Linked DNA regions of Homo sapiens: region 1 is linked to region 2. Evidence: fine-mapped expression QTL. A gene starts in region 2. The other region holds a variant in brackets. All regions are shown on one strand. Distances are from middle to middle.

What was found. PIP is the estimated chance that this variant, and not a neighbour inherited with it, causes the effect.
Region 1: its variant is fine-mapped to the expression of CLDN5 in whole blood (TOPMed, PIP above 0.99).

What each region holds. Positions count from the first base shown.
Region 1 is chr22:19,578,623-19,586,948 of GRCh38, forward strand. No RefSeq gene overlaps it. Among named protein-coding and RNA genes, the nearest start is that of LINC00895, 16 kb to the left of the region's middle. The variant T/C (reference allele first, on the strand shown) is at 3,843.
Region 2 is chr22:19,520,443-19,528,768 of GRCh38, forward strand. CLDN5 (claudin 5) reads right to left here and starts at 3,968. Exons shown (of 1, transcript NM_001363066.2): 1 at 2,585-3,968. The coding sequence starts at 3,813. The coding sequence ends at 3,157. It overlaps CDC45 (cell division cycle 45), which reads left to right. Exons shown (of 19, transcript NM_003504.5): 19 at 39-166. RefSeq lists an enhancer at 1,651-2,583.

The DNA.
Region 1 (8,326 bases), 58 kb after region 2:
TCCAATCTGTGTGACAGATGAGACCCTGTCTCTTAAAAAAAAAAAAAAACCAAAACCAAAAACAAAAAACCACCTCTCTAGATTATGTTGCTCCTCTGCTCCACACCATGCTGTGGCTTCTGTTCACAGTCAAAGGTCCCAAAGTGGCCATGGCCTGTGCTGCCTGCTGCCGCTCTCCACACCCTGGCCGCTCGGTCCCCAGGAGACCAGGCATGCTCCTGCCACAGGGCCTTTGCACTGGGTGCTCTCTGGGTCTGGAACAGGCCCCACACCCACTCACTTCCCCCAAGTCTGCTCAGATGCCACTTCCACACTTCCTAACAAAAGGAAGCTGTTGGTGAGCAGATGCTCAGTAACTTATGTGTGGCCAGAAGGAGCGAGTGGCTCCAGCCTGCGCGTGGAAAGCTGGCTCTCCTGGGTCACTGCTCTCACTGAGCCTCGGGTTTCTGCTGCCCAGAGGACTGCGTGGCTCTTTCTTGTACCTGGCAGTTCTGACACTGCTGGAATTGGGAAGAAAAGGGACCCTGAGACTAGGTCACTCCCTCCTGGGGTCTCAAGGGGCCCTGTCCCTGGGGCTGGAGGCTGAGCTTCCTCCTCCTTGTCCCCACCCTGGGGATGGCCTGTGTTCTGTCTTCCTTGTGCTCACCACTGGCGCCTGTTGGCTGAGGCAAGAGGGCCTCCAGCTGGGTTCTTCCTGTCCTCTAGTTGGTGCCTGAAGGCCCCAGTTGGGTGGGGTCTCTCTTTACCCTCTGGTCATATAGCAAACTGTGGCTGGTGTGTGGTGAGTCAGCCCTGTGTGCAGGCAGGGTCCCATTTCCCTGTGTGCAGGCCACAGTCTGTCCCAGTGCCTGCAAGGCCTCTGCCCCAGCTGGCCTGGACCCCCCTTGCCAGACTCTGCTCTTTGTGGGGCTCTGCCCACATCTACTGCCCAGTAGGACGCCCAGTCTCCACTGCTCTTTGGAGGTAAAAGAGGGCCTGGCACACTGGCACGGGGTACTTTCCCAAAGGTCAAAGATGTGTTGAGTGAACGAAGGTAGAGAGTTCATTTCTGAGACCTTTGCTGGCCTAATTCAGCTCAGTGGGGTGAAGTTATTACTGTTGAGATGCTTGCTGTTTTGATTGTCTTTAGAGAGCATTCTTAATATTTGGATGGTTTAAAATACCAAGGAGAAAAAAGGGAGGAGAGGCTTCTTTTTTAAAAATACCAACTTCATTATGAAAACACACAAATGTACACACAAATAGAATAATATAATGACACCCCTCCCACCACCACACGGCCTGTTTCAGTCTGTGTCCACAGCGAGGCTTCTGAAGGAAAGGCTGTGGAGGGGGTGAGCTGGTGGAGCCCATGTTCTCCCGGGCCTGGCCGGGATGTGCTTGCCGCTGTCACAGCTCCCCCATCTCCACCCGTCACATGACATCGAATGAGGCCGGCCTGGCTCTAGCCACTGCACAGGTGTCCCGTGGTCATTTCCTTCCTGTGCTGCTGAGGCACACAGTCACCCGTTTGCAAACTCTGAGGTGTTTTCCCTTTTCCCATTTCCTGTCACTGTTTTGAAGCTGTGAGAGGAAGAGAGAGACCTCGATCTGATAACCATTCATTTACTATCAAAGTTGGGGTCACATCCTTATAAGAACGTGTGGCTTGAGGTCATGAATAGCAGTAATGCGAGGGAAGCTAAGATTCTGGCAGGATGCAAATGATCTGGGAGTTTTCATTTTGTCGTTATGTATGGGCTGTTTTCTGCTGCATTGTTAACTATTGGAAAAGATTTTCCATGGATTATTATATGGATTATAGAGGAAAATGCAAATCTCCAACCTCTATACATTTAATCACTTAAATGAAATGTCAAGTTTTCTTGTTAAGAATTATGGTGCTGACTGGAAGAACAACATGGCTTTAAATATGACTTATTAGTTTCTTTCCACTTCTAAAGTTCAAAATAAAACATCATAGGTGGCAAAACAAATCAAGGTAAAATACGTTTTGAAAAGTCATAACTTTACTCAACAACAAAAAATAAGAAATAGACAGAGGACTTGAATAGACATTTCTCCAAAGAAGACATACAAGTGGCCAAGAAGTACATGAAAAGATGCCCAACATCACTGGTTATTAGGGAAATGCAAATCACAGGCATTAGGATGGCTATTATCAAAAAAAGCCAAGCAAAACCAACAACAGAAAATAAAAGCATTGGCAAGGATGTAAAGAACGTGAAGATGTGGAGAAATTGAACGTTGGTTTACTGTTGGTGGGAATGTAAAATGGTGCTGCCACCGTGGAAAAGTTTGGTATTTCCTCAAAAAGTGAATCAGAGGCCAGGCGCGGTGGCTCACGCCTGTAATCCCAGCACTTTGGGAGGCCGAGGTGGGCAGATCACGAGGTCCGGAGATCAAGACCATCCTGGCTAACACGGTGAAACCCCATTTCTACTAAAAATAAAAAAATTAGCTGGGCGTGGTGGTGGGCGCCTGTAGTCCCAGCTACTCGGGAGGCTGAGGCAGGAGAATGGCGTGAACCCGGGAGGTGGAGTTTGCAGTGAGCCGAGATAGCGCCACTGCAGTCCAGCCTGGGCTAAAGAGCAAGACTCCGTCTCAAAAAAAAAAAAAAAAAAAGTGAATCAGAATTACCGTGTGGTCTAGGAATTCCACGCCCAGAATAGGCATGCACTGAAAAGAATTGAAAGCAGGGACTCAAGACACTTGTGCATCGATGTTCACAGCAGCATCATTCACGCTAGCTAAAAGGTAGAAACAATTCAAACATGCACCGACAGATAAATGGATAAGCAATGTGGTCTACAGACATGGACAATGGAATATTATCCAGCCTTAAAGAAGGAACTCTGGCCGGTCACGGTGGCTCATGTGTGTAATCCCAGCACTTTGGGAGGCCGAGGCGGGTGGATCACGAGGTCAGGAGTTCAAGACCAGCCTGGCCAAGATGGTGAAACCCTGTCTCTACTAAAAATACAAAAATTAGCTGGGTGTGGTGGCAGGTGCCTGTAATCCCAGCTACTCAGGAGGCTGAGGCAGAGAATTGCTTGAACCCAGGAGGCAGAGGTTGCAGCAAGCCAAGATCATGCTACTGCACTCCAGCCTGGGTGACAGAGCAAGATTCTGTCTCAAAAAAAAAAAAAGAAGAAGGAATTCTGACACATGTTACTACATGGATGAATGTTGAAGCCATGCCCGGTGAAATAAGCCAGTCACAAAAAGACAAATATTGTCTGATTTCACTTATATGAGGTATCTCTTATATAAGGTAATCAAATTCATAGAGACAGAAATTAGAATAGTGGTTACCAGAGGGTGGGGAAGCAGGGAATGGGAAGTTATTATTGAATTAGTATAGACTTACAGTTTGGGATGACAACAAAGTTCTGGAGATGGATGATACTGATGGTTGTACAACATTGTGAATGTGCTTACTGCCACAGAACTGTACAATTAAAATGATTAAAATGATCCTTTTGGCCAGGCGCGGTGGCTCATGCCTGTAATCCCAGAACTTTAGGAGGCCGAGGCAGATGGATCGCGAGGTCAAGAGATCAAGACCAGCCTGGCCAACATGGTGAACCCCATCTCTACTAAACATACAAAAATTAGCTGGGCATGGTGGCACGTGCCTGTAATCCCCGCTACTCGGGGGCTGAGGCAGGAAAATCGCTTGAACCAGGGAGTCGGAGGTTGCGGTGAGCCGAGATGGCACCACTGCACTCCAGCCTGGTGACAGAGTGAGACTCCGTCTCAAAAAAAAGGATCCTTTTGTGCTGTGTATATTTTACCACAATTAAAAATGCAGGAGTTAGTAAAGGAATGGAACAAGATCA[T/C]GTGAACGTGAGTTATGAGAATACTGGAATGGCATCCGGCAAAGCAGACTCAGAACAGGACTGTTCCTAGAGATAGGGAGGACTGTTTTATGCGGATAAAGTGGTCAAGTCATCAAGAAGACATTATGATCCTAAATATGTATGCACCCAATACAGAGCAAAAACTGACAGAACCAAGAGAACAAATAGACAAATGCGCAGTTATAGCTAGAGATTTCCACACTTCTCTCTCAGTAAATGACAGAACAAGGAGGCAGAAAATCAGTTTAAGAATGCAGAATACTGCCTGGGTGCGGTGGCTCACACCTGTAATCCCAGCACTTTGGGAGGCCAAGGTAGGCAGATCACTTGAGGTCAGGAGTTTGAGATCAGCTTGGCCAACATGGCAAAAACCTGTCTCTACCAAAAATACAAAAATTAGCAAGGTGTGGTGGTGCATACCTGTAATCCCGGCTACTTGGTAGGCTAAAGCAGAAGAATTGCTTGAACCCGGGAGGTGGATGTTGTAGTAAGCCGAGATCACGCCATTGCACTCTAGCCTGGGCGACAAGAACAAAACTCCATCATGACAAAAAAAAAAAAACAACAACAACGACAAAAACTAGCCAATTGAGTTGGGCACAGTGGCTCACGACTGTAATCCCAGCACTTTGGGAGGCCGAGGCAGGCAGATCGCTTGAGCTCAGGAGATGAAGACCAGCCTGGGCAACGTGGTGAAACCCTGACTCTACAAAAAATCCAAAAAATTAGCCATGTGTGGTGGTGTACACCTGTGGTCCCAGCTGCTTGGGAGGCTGAGGTGGGAGGATCACTGAAGCCTGGGAGGTCAAGGCTGCAGTGAGCAGAGATCGCGTCACTGCACTCCAGCATGGGTGTCAGAGTGAGACCCTGTCTGAAAAAAAAAAAAGTCAGTTGAATCTAGCAACAAAAAAAAGGATAGGCCATGGACAAGTAGAGTTTATCCCAGTAATGCAACATCAGCTTAACATTTAAAAATCAATATAATCCTCCATATTAACACAAAAAAAGTAGGAAAACACTATCAATAAAGAGCAGAAAACTGATGGTACAACAAGTGGATGAATCTCACAGGACTTATGTTGAATGAAAGAAGCTGGACAAAACAGTATGCACTGTGATTCCTTTTATAGAAAACTCTAGAAAGGACAGATCTCATCTAGAATGATGGAACACAGATGGGTGGTTCCCTGGGTCCTGGTGTGACCAGGAGGAGTCATGAGGGAAGCTTCTGGAGTGATGGGATGTTCTTGGTTTTGACTGTGATGATGGTTACTTACACAGGTATACACATTTGTCTACATGCATTGAGCTGTATACTTTTATTTTTTTTTTTGAGACAGAGTCTCACTCTGTCACCCAGGATGGAGTGCAGTGGCACGTCTTGGCTCACTGCAAGCTCCGCCTCCCGGGTTCACGCCATTCTCCTGCCTGAGGCTCCCAAATAGCTGGGACTACAGGCATGGGCCACCACACCCGGCTAATTTTGTTTTTGTATTTTTAGTAGAGACGGGGTTTCACCATGTTAGCCAGGATGGTCTCGATCTCCTGACCTCATGATCTGCCCACCTCGGCCTCCCAAAGTGCTGGGATTACAGGCGTGAGCCACCATGCCCGGCCTAAGCTGTATACTTAAGATGTGTGCACTCTCTCGTATGCAAGCTGTACATCAATAATATTGATTTTTAAAAATCCTTTAACTGAGGTAAAACACTGATGTACAGTGTAGTTATTCTGCATTTTCTGAAATAACCATAGTTTATATCAGAAAGAATAGGGAGCTACAGAAGATACAGAATAGTGCATATAAGTTGCTACTTTTTATTGATAAATTTTTACATGTTTATGTGGTACATGGAGTAGTTGTTACATTACACATTACAGAATATGTAATGATCAACTGAGAGTATCTGAGGTATCCATCACCTTGAGTGTTTCTTTCTTTTTTCTTTTTTTTTTTTTTTTGAGAGGGAGTCTTGCTCTGTCACCCAGGCTGGAGTGCAGTGGCACGATCTTGGCTCAATGCAAGCTCTGCCTCCCGGGTTCACGCCATTCTCCTGCCTCAGCCTCCCGAGTAGCTGGGACTACAGGCGCCCGCCACCACGCCCGGCTAATTTTTTTTTTTTTTTTTGTATTTTTTAGTAGAGACGGGGTTTCACTGTGTTAACCAGGATGGTGTTGATCTCCTGACCTCGTGATCTGCCTGCCTCGGCCTCCCAAAGTGCTGGGATTACAGGTGTGAGCCACCGTGCCCGGCCTTGAGTATTTATTTCTAAGTGTTTGTAATGAGGTAGGAGGCAGGCGAGACTCAACTCCGGACCAGATTGAGGACTGGCCAAAACTAGGAAGAAGTGCACAAAGGACCTCTCCATAAGACATGCCCACCAGTGCCATGACAGTTTACTATTGCCATAGCAACACCCAAAACTTACCACCCATTTTCTAGCTGTTTCTGAATAACCTGCCCCTTAATTAGCATGGCACTAAAAGTGGGTATAAGATATGACTGCAAAACTGCCCCTAGGCTGCGACCCTCAGCACACTGCCTATGGGGTAGCTCTGCTCTGCAGGGGCAGCCAGCCAGAGCTATAGCACTGCCTCCACCGCAAGAAAGCTGTTTTCTTCCACTACCAGCTTGCTCTTGAATTCCTTCCTGAGGAAGCCAAGAACCTGCCCTGCATCAGTAGCATTTCAAGTCCTCTCTTCTAGCTGCTCTGAAATATGCAATACATTGTTGCCAGCTACAGATACCCTACTACCCTGCTATGGAATGTTAGGGCTTATTTCTTCTACCTAACCATATGTTTGTACCCATTAGCCAACTTCTCTTTATCCTCCTCCCACCCACACATGCTTCCCAGCCTCTGGTATCTATCATTCTATTCTCTCCCTCCATGACATCAACTTTTTAGCTCCCACATATGAGTGAGAACATATGGTAGCTGTCTTTCTGTGCTTGGCCTATTTCACTTAACGTTATGATCATCGGTTCCATCCATGCTGCTGCAAATGACGATTTCATTCATCTTATGGCTGAATAGAATTCCATTATATATATATTTATATATATATATATATATATATATATATATCTATCTCACATTTTCTTTATTTCTTCATCTGTCAGTGGACACAGTTTGATTCCATATCTTTGCTGTTGTGAATAGGAGAGTGCTACCACTGTTAAAGGATCTATTTACATACATGCTTATAAATAAATGCATCCAGGATTTTTGTAAAGATCTATCATTACTTTCACTCTTTTGTAGCTTTTGAATTTTTTCATCATGTGCATCCACTTCCTAAAAACAAAATTTCTTTTTTTAACTTTTCTTTTCTTTTTCTTTTTTTTTGAGGCAGGGTCTCATTCTGTCACCCAGGCTGGATTGCAGTGGTGTGACCTGAGCTCACTGCAACACGTACCTCCTGGGCTCAAACAATCCTCCTACCTCAGCCTCCTGAGTAGCTGAGACTACACACTCATGCCACCACACCCAGCTAATTTTTGTATTTTTTGTAGAGATGGGGTTTTGTTATGTTGCCAAGACTGCTGTCTAACTCCTGGGCACAAGCAATCTGCCTGCCTTGGCCCAAAGTGCTGGGATTACAGGCATGAGCCACCGCACCCAGTTGTGTTTTTTTGTGTTTTGTTTTTGTTTTTGTTTTTGTTTTGAGACAGAGTCTCCCTCTATTGCCCAGGCTGGAGTGCAGTGGTGCTGAAACAGGAAAAGTTCCCGTGTCCCCCTCGCAGGGCAGGCGATGGGGGTGTGGTTCGCTTCTTCAGTGCCCCACTGCTCAAACCGCTAGGGGAGCATACAGATGGGCAGGCTGTGGGGCTCCGGCCCCAGGGCAATGTCTAGGGGTTAATGTTTACAGCCAGGACCCAGTGGGCATGTGCTACTGTTTGCTCTTTTAGTTTTGCTGTCTATAGGTGGCTTTTGTTAACCAGTTCAATTAGACCCTCTAGGCCTGGCATGGTGGCTCATGCCTGTAATCCCAGCACTTTGGGAGGCCGAGGTGGGCAGATCACTTGAGGTCAGAAGTTCAAGACCAGCCTGGCCCAACATGGCGAAACCCCGTCTCTACTTAAAAATACAAAAATTATCCGGGTGTGGTGGCTCACACCTGTAATCCCACCTATTCGGGAGGCTGAGGCATGAGAATCACTTGAACCCCAGAGGCAGAGGTTGCAGTGAGCAGAGATTGCACCACTGCACTCCAGCCTAGGCGACACAGGGAGACACCATCTCAACAAAAAACAAAAAAAAAAAACAAAAACAAAAACAGAAAAAAAGGACCCTGTACCTTGTTGCGAGGACAGAGGACTTCCTGTATCCGGGTTTTTGACTTGGTGTACCGGAAGAATTGGATCACACGTGGGCTTGGAGAATGAGTGCAAGGTTTTGTTGAGTGGAAGTAGCTCTCAGTAGATGGGGGAGCCAGAAGGGAGATGGAGTGGGAAGGTG
Region 2 (8,326 bases):
ATCGTTTGAAACTTGTTTTTTCTTGTTTTGTTTTCTAGAATTTGATTCTTCCAGAATGACCTTCTTATTTATGTAACTGGCTTTCATTTAGATTGTAAGTTATGGACATGATTTGAGATGTAGAAGCCATTTTTTATTAAATAAAATGCTTATTTTAGGCTCCGTCCCCATTGTGGCTCTGGTCTCGAGGCCAGTGCTTGAGTGTGCTCTGAGCCTTCTGTGGGTCTTGGGCCCCAGGAGCCCTCAGTGCCTGGCAGGAAATCAGCATGGGGATTGGCCCCAAGGACAAGATCTCCTTACTCTGTCCTCCAGGCCCTCCGGGTGGCAGTGGACAGAGGTCAGGACCCCTCGGCATCCCCGCCTCCTCATAGCACCTGCACCGGCCACTGCCTGGTGGTGCCAGCCAGCACCTGGCTCTGTCCACCTACCACTTCCTCTGGTCCACCTGGCCTCAGCCACATAGCAAGTCCACCCTCTCAGCCATCCCTCCACCTGTGGGTCTCACCATCCAGCACTCTTTTCCAGGTCTTTGAAGGCAGGAGTGATTTGGGTAGGTTTTAAGTCAGTGGGGAAAAGCTCAGAAAGAGTGGCCTGGAAAAGAGCACACAGGTAGGTGGGGCTGGTCTTGGTGCAGCCCTTGGCAAAGGGCAGTGGGCACAAAAGGGTGAGAGCTGGACTGGAGGCTGGGCCCCTCCCCTCACCTCTGGTGGTTTGCACAGCTTCCCGGGACCCTTGAGCTGCCTACCCTGGCCATTTGGGAAAATTCAAAGGCTGTGCAGCTTCCTTTCCATGCCCTTTCTTTCCTTTTTTTGAGACAGAGTCTCGCTCTGTCACCAGACTAGAGTGCAGTTGGTGCGATCTCGGCACACTGCAACCTCTGCCTCCCGAGTTCAAGTGGTTCTCCTGTCTCAGCCTCCCGAGTAGCTGGGATTACAGGCACACACCACCACGCCCAGCTAATTTTTGTATTTTTAGTACAGACGGGTGTCACCACGTTGGCCAGAATGGTCTTGATGTCCTGACCCTGTGATCCGCCCACGTCGGCCTTCCAAAGTGCTGGGATTACAGGCGTGAGCCACCGTGCCCAGCCCCGTGCCTGTCCTTTCTTAGGAAAAGGCTTTCTTAGGAATGCCCTCCCAGGCAGCCTTGGGCCTCAGCTTCTGACCAAACACACCAGACCTGGTACTACCCAGTCCCGGTGGCCAGGTGCAAGAGTGTAAGGACCATTGTTTTTGGCTCTGCCCAGGGCCACAGCTCTGGGATCACACACTCCCAAGCTTGGGGACTATTCTTGGTCCCTGTTGTACAGGCCCAGGTGGGGTACAGGTCAGGCCTGCTGAGGACCTCTGCACCGTGGGGCCCCTCTCCCTGTAACTCATCCCACCGGCTGGTTCCACAGCAGCTCCCAGGAAGCTGCCACACATTCCAGCAGCTGCCCTAAGCCACTCTGAGCCTGCATTCTTGGGGTTCTCCCACTGCTCCATGATGGTAGCCTGGCCAGACCTAGGAGACTCCCTGCCACTGGATGTGGCCCAGACATTTCTGGGCAGGGCCCCCAAGTCCAGTTTGGGGCAGATACCAAGTCTCCCTTCCGGCTGGGCTTAGAGCTCTTCCCTGCAGCATGCCCCCTTCATCAGCTGCTCTCTTCTGCTTCTAGCTTTATGTCAAATGTCAAAAATGTGTTAATTCAAAGTGCCTAGAACAAGGCTAAAAACAGTGAGCTCTCAGTGGCTATGTTAGATGGCTCTAGACACCCCCATTCCGAGGTGCCTGGCAGGGGCCAGCACTGACTCCCAGGCCACACAGCCCCTGGAGGAGGAAGGTTACCCAGAGTGCCCCCAGCAGGGGCTGGCACAGGTGCTGGTTGTGAGCACCATTCTGGGCAGGCTGCCAGGCCAGCAGGGTGGGTACAGGCTCTGTAGGGAGCTGCGCTGGGACTGGCAGAGGAGCCAGGACGAGGGGCTAGAGCCAAGCTGTGGTACTCCAGGCAACCAGCTGCCAGCACCTCCTCCCATGGCAACCCTACTGTTGACCGGCGTGTCCTGCATTCACCCCTGTTCCTGCCCCACCCACCATTGGAAAGGGCCTGGTCGGGGATTCTACAGACCTCTGTGGCCACTTGATGGGGCTTGGGACTAGGCAAGCCCTGAGAGGGCAGTGGAAAACCTCACCCTGTGCTGTGTGGGGCTTGGCCCTTTCTGGGAGAAGCCAGCGGCCTGGCTGCTCACCCCCAGCACTTCCCACACCGCAGGACCCCCACTCACCAGCCTGTGTTGAGGGCGCTTCACCCCGCATCTTCTGCTGGGGTCTGCCGCTGCCCCCGCCCCTGTCCCATCCCGGGCCCCAGGGCCCCATGACGCAGCAGCTCTTCTGACCGCAGATCCCGCCTTTCTGGGCTGTAGTAAGTGGTGGCTGTGTCTCCCACCTGGTGGGAAGGTGGCAGGGAGGATGGGGAAAAGAGCCCCAGCCTCCAGCCCTGGGAGGAGGTCTCCACAGGAGTCCTTGGGAGGGCGGGGCTGGTGGGTGATGAATGGGGCTGCTGGACACGGAAGATGGCTGGACAGAGAACAGGACACAGGTGGGAGAGAGTTCAAACCATTTACTAAGCAGATTCTTAGCCTTCCCACTCCCGCCCTCTCTCAAGCTCCGGTGCCCACAAGCCTTGCCTGGGGAGATGCTGGAGTGAGACCGGGAGGTCCAGGCCAAGTCACTGGTCCCTGGGCTCGGGCCCTGCCGATGGAGTAAAGACCAGCTGTACACATCTTCCGGTGGGGGCCCTGGGCTCTGCATCCGCCCCTCCGAAGTCAGCAGGAGCCTCTGGGAAGTAAGGCAGCAGCCAAGACCCCCAGCGTCTTGGAGGGGAAGCGAAATCCTCAGTCTGACACCCGCTCTGCCTATGGAAACAGCGCCGCGCACAGAAAAGGAAACTTCATTCCGTCTGTTAAGGGCAGGGCCGGGCTAGTGGCAGGAGAAGGTCAGCTGCGGGCGCAGGCAGGAGCGGATCCAGGAGCCGCGTCGGGGCGCAGAGCCGGACGTTCCGAGGAGCCTGCGCGCCGCGCTACCCGGCGGAAGCCGCGGTCCATGCGGGGCTCCCCAGGCTTATCCAACGCCTCGCAGGCGTGGCTGGCAGGAGGGGCCCGGCCGTGCCCAGCGCCCTCAGACGTAGTTCTTCTTGTCGTAGTCGCCGGTGGCCGTGGGCCGCCGCGGCGCTGAGTACTTCACGGGGAAGCTGAGGTCGGGACGGCCGGTGCAGACCCAGGCGCCGCAGCACAAGAGGCAGCCGCCTACCATGAGCAGCGCGGTGGCCGCCCAGCCGATGTACAGCGCTGCGCCCAGCTCGTACTTCTGCGACACGGGCACAGACGGGTCGTAAAACTCGCGGACGACAATGTTGGCGAACCAGCAGAGTGGCACGAGCGCCAGCAGCCCGCAAAACAGGTAGAGCACGCCTCCCGTGAGGGCCACACGCGCCTTGGCCGGGCCCGGGGCCACGCAGGTGGTGCACTGCGCGCCCGCCAGGGTCACGAAGAGCGCAACGAACGCCAGCAGCACGGCGCTCACGGTGAGCGCCCGCGCCGCCTGCACCTCGGTGCTCAGAGCCAGCACCGAGTCGTACACTTTGCACTGCATGTGCCCGGTGCTCTGCACCACGCACGACATCCACAGCCCCTTCCAGGTGGTCTGCGCCGTCACGATGTTGTGGTCCAGGAAGGCGGTCACCTGCCACATGGGCAGCCCGCACGCCAGGATCAGACCCCCCCAGCCCACCAGGCACAGCACCAGGCCCAGGATCTCCAACGCTGCGGACCCCATGGCTAGAGGCGAGACGCGCACCCGAAGGCCCGCAGAACCCCCAAGGCCGTGCTGCGCGGCGCCCTGGGCGGGCCCTGGTGCCTTTGCGCCCGCGCTCCCGGCTCTTGGCCCCAGTCCGTTTGCCCCGCGGGTCTGTCGCACCTCCTGGGTCTGCCAGCTCCTGCCGGGGGGTACCCTCTTTGAAGGTTCGGGGGCGGATTCTGTCCCCCGGGCCCGGCCCCCCGGCCCGAAGCAGCCAATCCGTGCGCGGGTCATCGTGCCGCAGCCAATCACAGAGCCTCTGGCAGCTGAAGTTAGGGAAACAACGGCTCTTGAGGGGTAGCTGAGGGCGCGGGACCGCTCCCCGCCCGGCAGCCGCCCCCAGCCCCACCCGCCGTTGTCCTAGTCGCGGCCGAGCGCATTCTGGGCTGGCCTAGGGCGCGCTTCTTGGGCCGCCTCCCTGCGCGTCCCGGCCCCGTCACTTCAGAAGGCGCTCGACCCCCAGTCTGCACCACCCAGTCCACTCCCACATCCCCGACTGAGCCGGGTGGTCTCTTCCACTCGAGCCAGCTCCACTTCCCTGACCAAGGTTTGCAGAAGCCCCCCACCCCGTCACCGCCGTAGAGGCCCTCGTAGGGGGGCTCTCCAGAAAGCCCGCCCCGGGGTCCAAGCCCCACCCAGGCCCTTTCTCGCACTCTCACTCTCCAGCCCCGCTCTGAGTCCCAGCACTGTCTCTCTCATCCCATGGCAAACAGAGAGGCCAGGCAGGCGTGTGGAGGTCAGGCCCAGGGCCCCAGCCTCACCCCCCATGCCACTCACTGCCTCTCTGGAGCCTGAGTCTCTGGCAAAAAGCGGTGGCACAGGGGCTTTCCCCCTGCCTGGCGACCCCCACTCTCCCAAGCCGCAGGGGCTTCCCAGACCTCTCAATCTTCACAGGGGCTGCTCCTCTTCCTGCGGTACTGCCCGCACCCCATCCTTGGGGGCCCAGTTCAGGTGACACCACTTCAGGAAGTTCCCAGTGACCCAGCACACTGGGTGTAGCACCCAGGGGCAGTGGTGGCCCCAGGCCTAGCAGCCTGCTCTGGCCTTCAGACAGGAGAGACAAAGGGACACGGAGGGGCTGTGCCCTGCCCTCCCACCAGTGGCGATGGTGTCCCTGGCACCCCAGCCCCCAGGCCACCCTCCGGAAGCCAACTTGGAGTTTCCTGGCCAGGAGGAAGAGCCCCCATCCTTGCTGGAGGAGGGAGGCGCGGGATTTCCGGGCATTCTTCTGCACAATGGCCCAGCCATTTCTCGAAAGGTCCACTGGTGTGGACACTCCGGGCCCCCTGAGGCTCAGGTGGGGGCACGCGGCTCCAAAACCCACAGCCCCATGGGGGCACCAGCCCCTTTCTAGTAGTTCTTTCCCCAGTCTCTCTCGGCCCCTTTGTTTCCAGTAAAGTTTGAACTCCAGGCCCTGGACTGAGGCCACTGGGTGCCCAGTTCTTTTATCTGGTCTGTGCTCAGTTCCATTGGACAGGGCCCTCCATAGAAAAAGTATGGCACTGAGGCTGGTCACAGATGTGGGAGGTTTGATGACTTTCTCCCTCCTGGGGCCCGGTTCCCTTCTCCCCCTTCAGATGGCTCTGAGATGGTAAATGAGATAAGGCCAGCGTCTGGCTCACCTAGTGTGGGGAGGTTCTGAAGGCAAGTGTGCCCAGCCCTGAGGCTGGAAGGAAATCATACCCTCTTTGCTCAGCCCCACGTGGCCTCTCCCCACCAGGTATGGCTCTGAGGACCACTGCCTTCTCCCAGCTATCACTTTAGTCACTGCCTTCCTCCTGCTGCAGACCCATGGGCCATGCCCCTTCCTCTACAGACCCTCCTGGACATCTCCTCCTCTGTGTACTCCAGGGGTACAGCTGACCCACCCACCCTCTCACTCTTACTACCCCCTAACCCAAGCCCAGGGAACTTCCCCAGATCCCCCTACTCCCAGCCCTTCCATGCCACCATCTTCCTGGGATGACTGCTGCGGCCTCCTCAGGTCATCAGGGACCTGCCCTTGCCCAGCTAGGCCACCCACCCCACCAGGCCCCTCTCCTGGGCCTCACCCTACCTAAGACCCTCCATGGCTCACATTGCCCATGGACGAAGAGCCGACTCCCAGAGCAGCTGGATTGATGTGTACCTGCATGCGCTAGGACTGGCCAGTCCAGCCACCAGTCTTGGTGCGGCCCTGAGCACACACTCTGCCCCAGGAGACTTACCTGCCTATGGGCCTCACATGGGCCGTCTCTTACCTTGGCCTCTTCTGCCCGCAGCGTGTATCTGTCAGGTTGGGTCCTGCTCATCTTCTAAGATGTGTTGCCGAGGTCATTTCCAGGAACACCTTGCTGCACCGTCCCCCAGCATTGCTTTTAGAAGCTTGAGCTGGACCTGTCCTTTTGCTTGCCGACTTTCCCACCTAGTATCCAGGAATAACCTCCACAGGGTGGCTGTCTTCATGCGTCTGTCCTGCACAGGAGGCTGCCTGTTGCCCTCTAGCCAGCTTGGAGCTGCAGCCAGCCCAAGGCTCTCCCTTCTCACCTGGCTGCCTGTTTTTCTTCTCTCCTAGCTGTCACCCTAGGGTGGCCCCAGCAAGCTCATGTTTCTTTGGCGGCAGCCTCACAGCATCTCAGGGACGTGGCAGAGGAGTCTCAGGCTTCACCTTTCACAATCTGGTTTCTACCCTGACCCCACTATGTTGGTCGAGGCCCCAGGCTGCAGTGGAACAATGCCAATGCAGAGAGGCCCAGAGAGGGCCGCAGGGGCTGACGCCACCCCAGACAAACCCACCTCAGATGGAGGCTGGCCTCTGAGTAGCCCAGGCCAGACTCCGGAGGGGCATGAGGGTGCACCCACCTTTCCTGCCACTCATGGAGGGTCTGCTCACCTACTTCGTGGCAAGCACTGTCTCTAGGCAGAGCACACAGCACAAGAAGCTCCTGCCCAGAAGGAGCTGACAGGAACCTATCAACCAAGAACTGGGCAGGAAAGACAGTGGTGAAGGCCTCTCTGAAGAGGTGACATTTCACAGGGATCCGGGGAAGAAGTTCCAGGCAGAGCAGAAGCAATAGCCAGTGCAAGATCCCAGAGGTGGGAAGGGGCTCGGCGTCCAAGGGGCAGAAGCGGCCTTGTGTCCACAGTGCCACAGTGGTCCAGGGCCTGCAGGTGGAGATCGGAGGTGTCCTGGTTAGGCAGGGACACAAACCCCTGATCTCTGGTAAAGGGCCCTTGGGGCAGAGCACTGGCCAAGGCCACCTGCTCACCCCCAGCCATTGTTCTGCTTTCCCAGGGGAAGAATGGCAGGATCTCATTAATTGTGTGTGAGAAGAGCCTGAGTCTGCAGAAAAGCCAAGTTTATCTTGAGCAGCTGCTGGCTGACCCTGCCCCAGGGTAATCCCGTGACCTTCCAAGGATAAGCTAAATTTAGGCTCAAGATTCCTGGGGATTTGGGTTTGGGAAACTCCTAGTTAACAGATTTGATTTCAGGGGAAGTGAAGAACAGCGTTTCTTCTATCTTTCAGTTTTGAAACAGTTAAGGATGTGTCCTTCTATTTCCGCAAATGTTTGCAGAGCCTCCAAGCACAGTGTGGCCTGGTGCTCTTTCTTGACACAAGCCAGTACTCCTGCAGGCCGAGAGCAGCAGCTGGGGTCCTCCTGCATCCCTGACCACTGCACCAGGTGCCCGAGGCACCCTGTGTGGGGCCCCTGGGCGGCTGTGACGATGTGAGCAGCATCCAGAGTGGACAGTGCCAGACTCGGCGGTTTTGCGGGCATTGTTGTTACTCTTTGTGGTTAAACACAGGCATGGAGTCAGATTCGCTCCCGCAAGCAAGAAACTTTCTGGACTAGTGAGGTGGCCTCTCTGCCTTAGTTCCTCACTGGTAACGAAGCCCCCCAATGGTGGAGGCTGCGAGGCTGCAGGGGAGGCCGATGCCAGTCCCGGTTCTCTTCTGCCTTTCCTGAGTGCCATCCACCCAGGCTCCCAGGGCCTTCACAGCTCATCCAACCTCAGCCGCACCCCTCAGGGTAGTCATCGCTGGCTGTTAGTCAGAATTGGAGGTCACTGTGGCTTTAACTTCCCCAGCGGGTGAGGGAGTGGGGGGCAGGGAGCTCTGGTGTGATCCACGAAGGGTCAAGGGTTCTATAGAATGGCAAGCCAGGCCAAGCGCAGTGGCTCACGCCTGTAATTCCATTCAGGAGGCCGAGGTGGGCGGATCACTTGAGGTCAGGAGTTTGAGACCAGCCTGTCCAACACGGTGAAACCCCGTCTCTACTAAAAATACTAAAATTAGCTGGGCGTGGTGGCACGCACCTGTAATCCGTTACTCGGGTAGCTGAGGTGGGAGAATCCCTTGAACCTGGGAGGCAGAGGTTGCAGTGAGCCGAGATCATGCCATTGCACTCCATCCTGGGCAACACAGCAAGACTCCATCTCAAAAAAAAAAAAAAGTCCACCAAAGTACATCATAAACCAAATTTCGTAAAACTGGTGCTAAAGAGAAAGTCT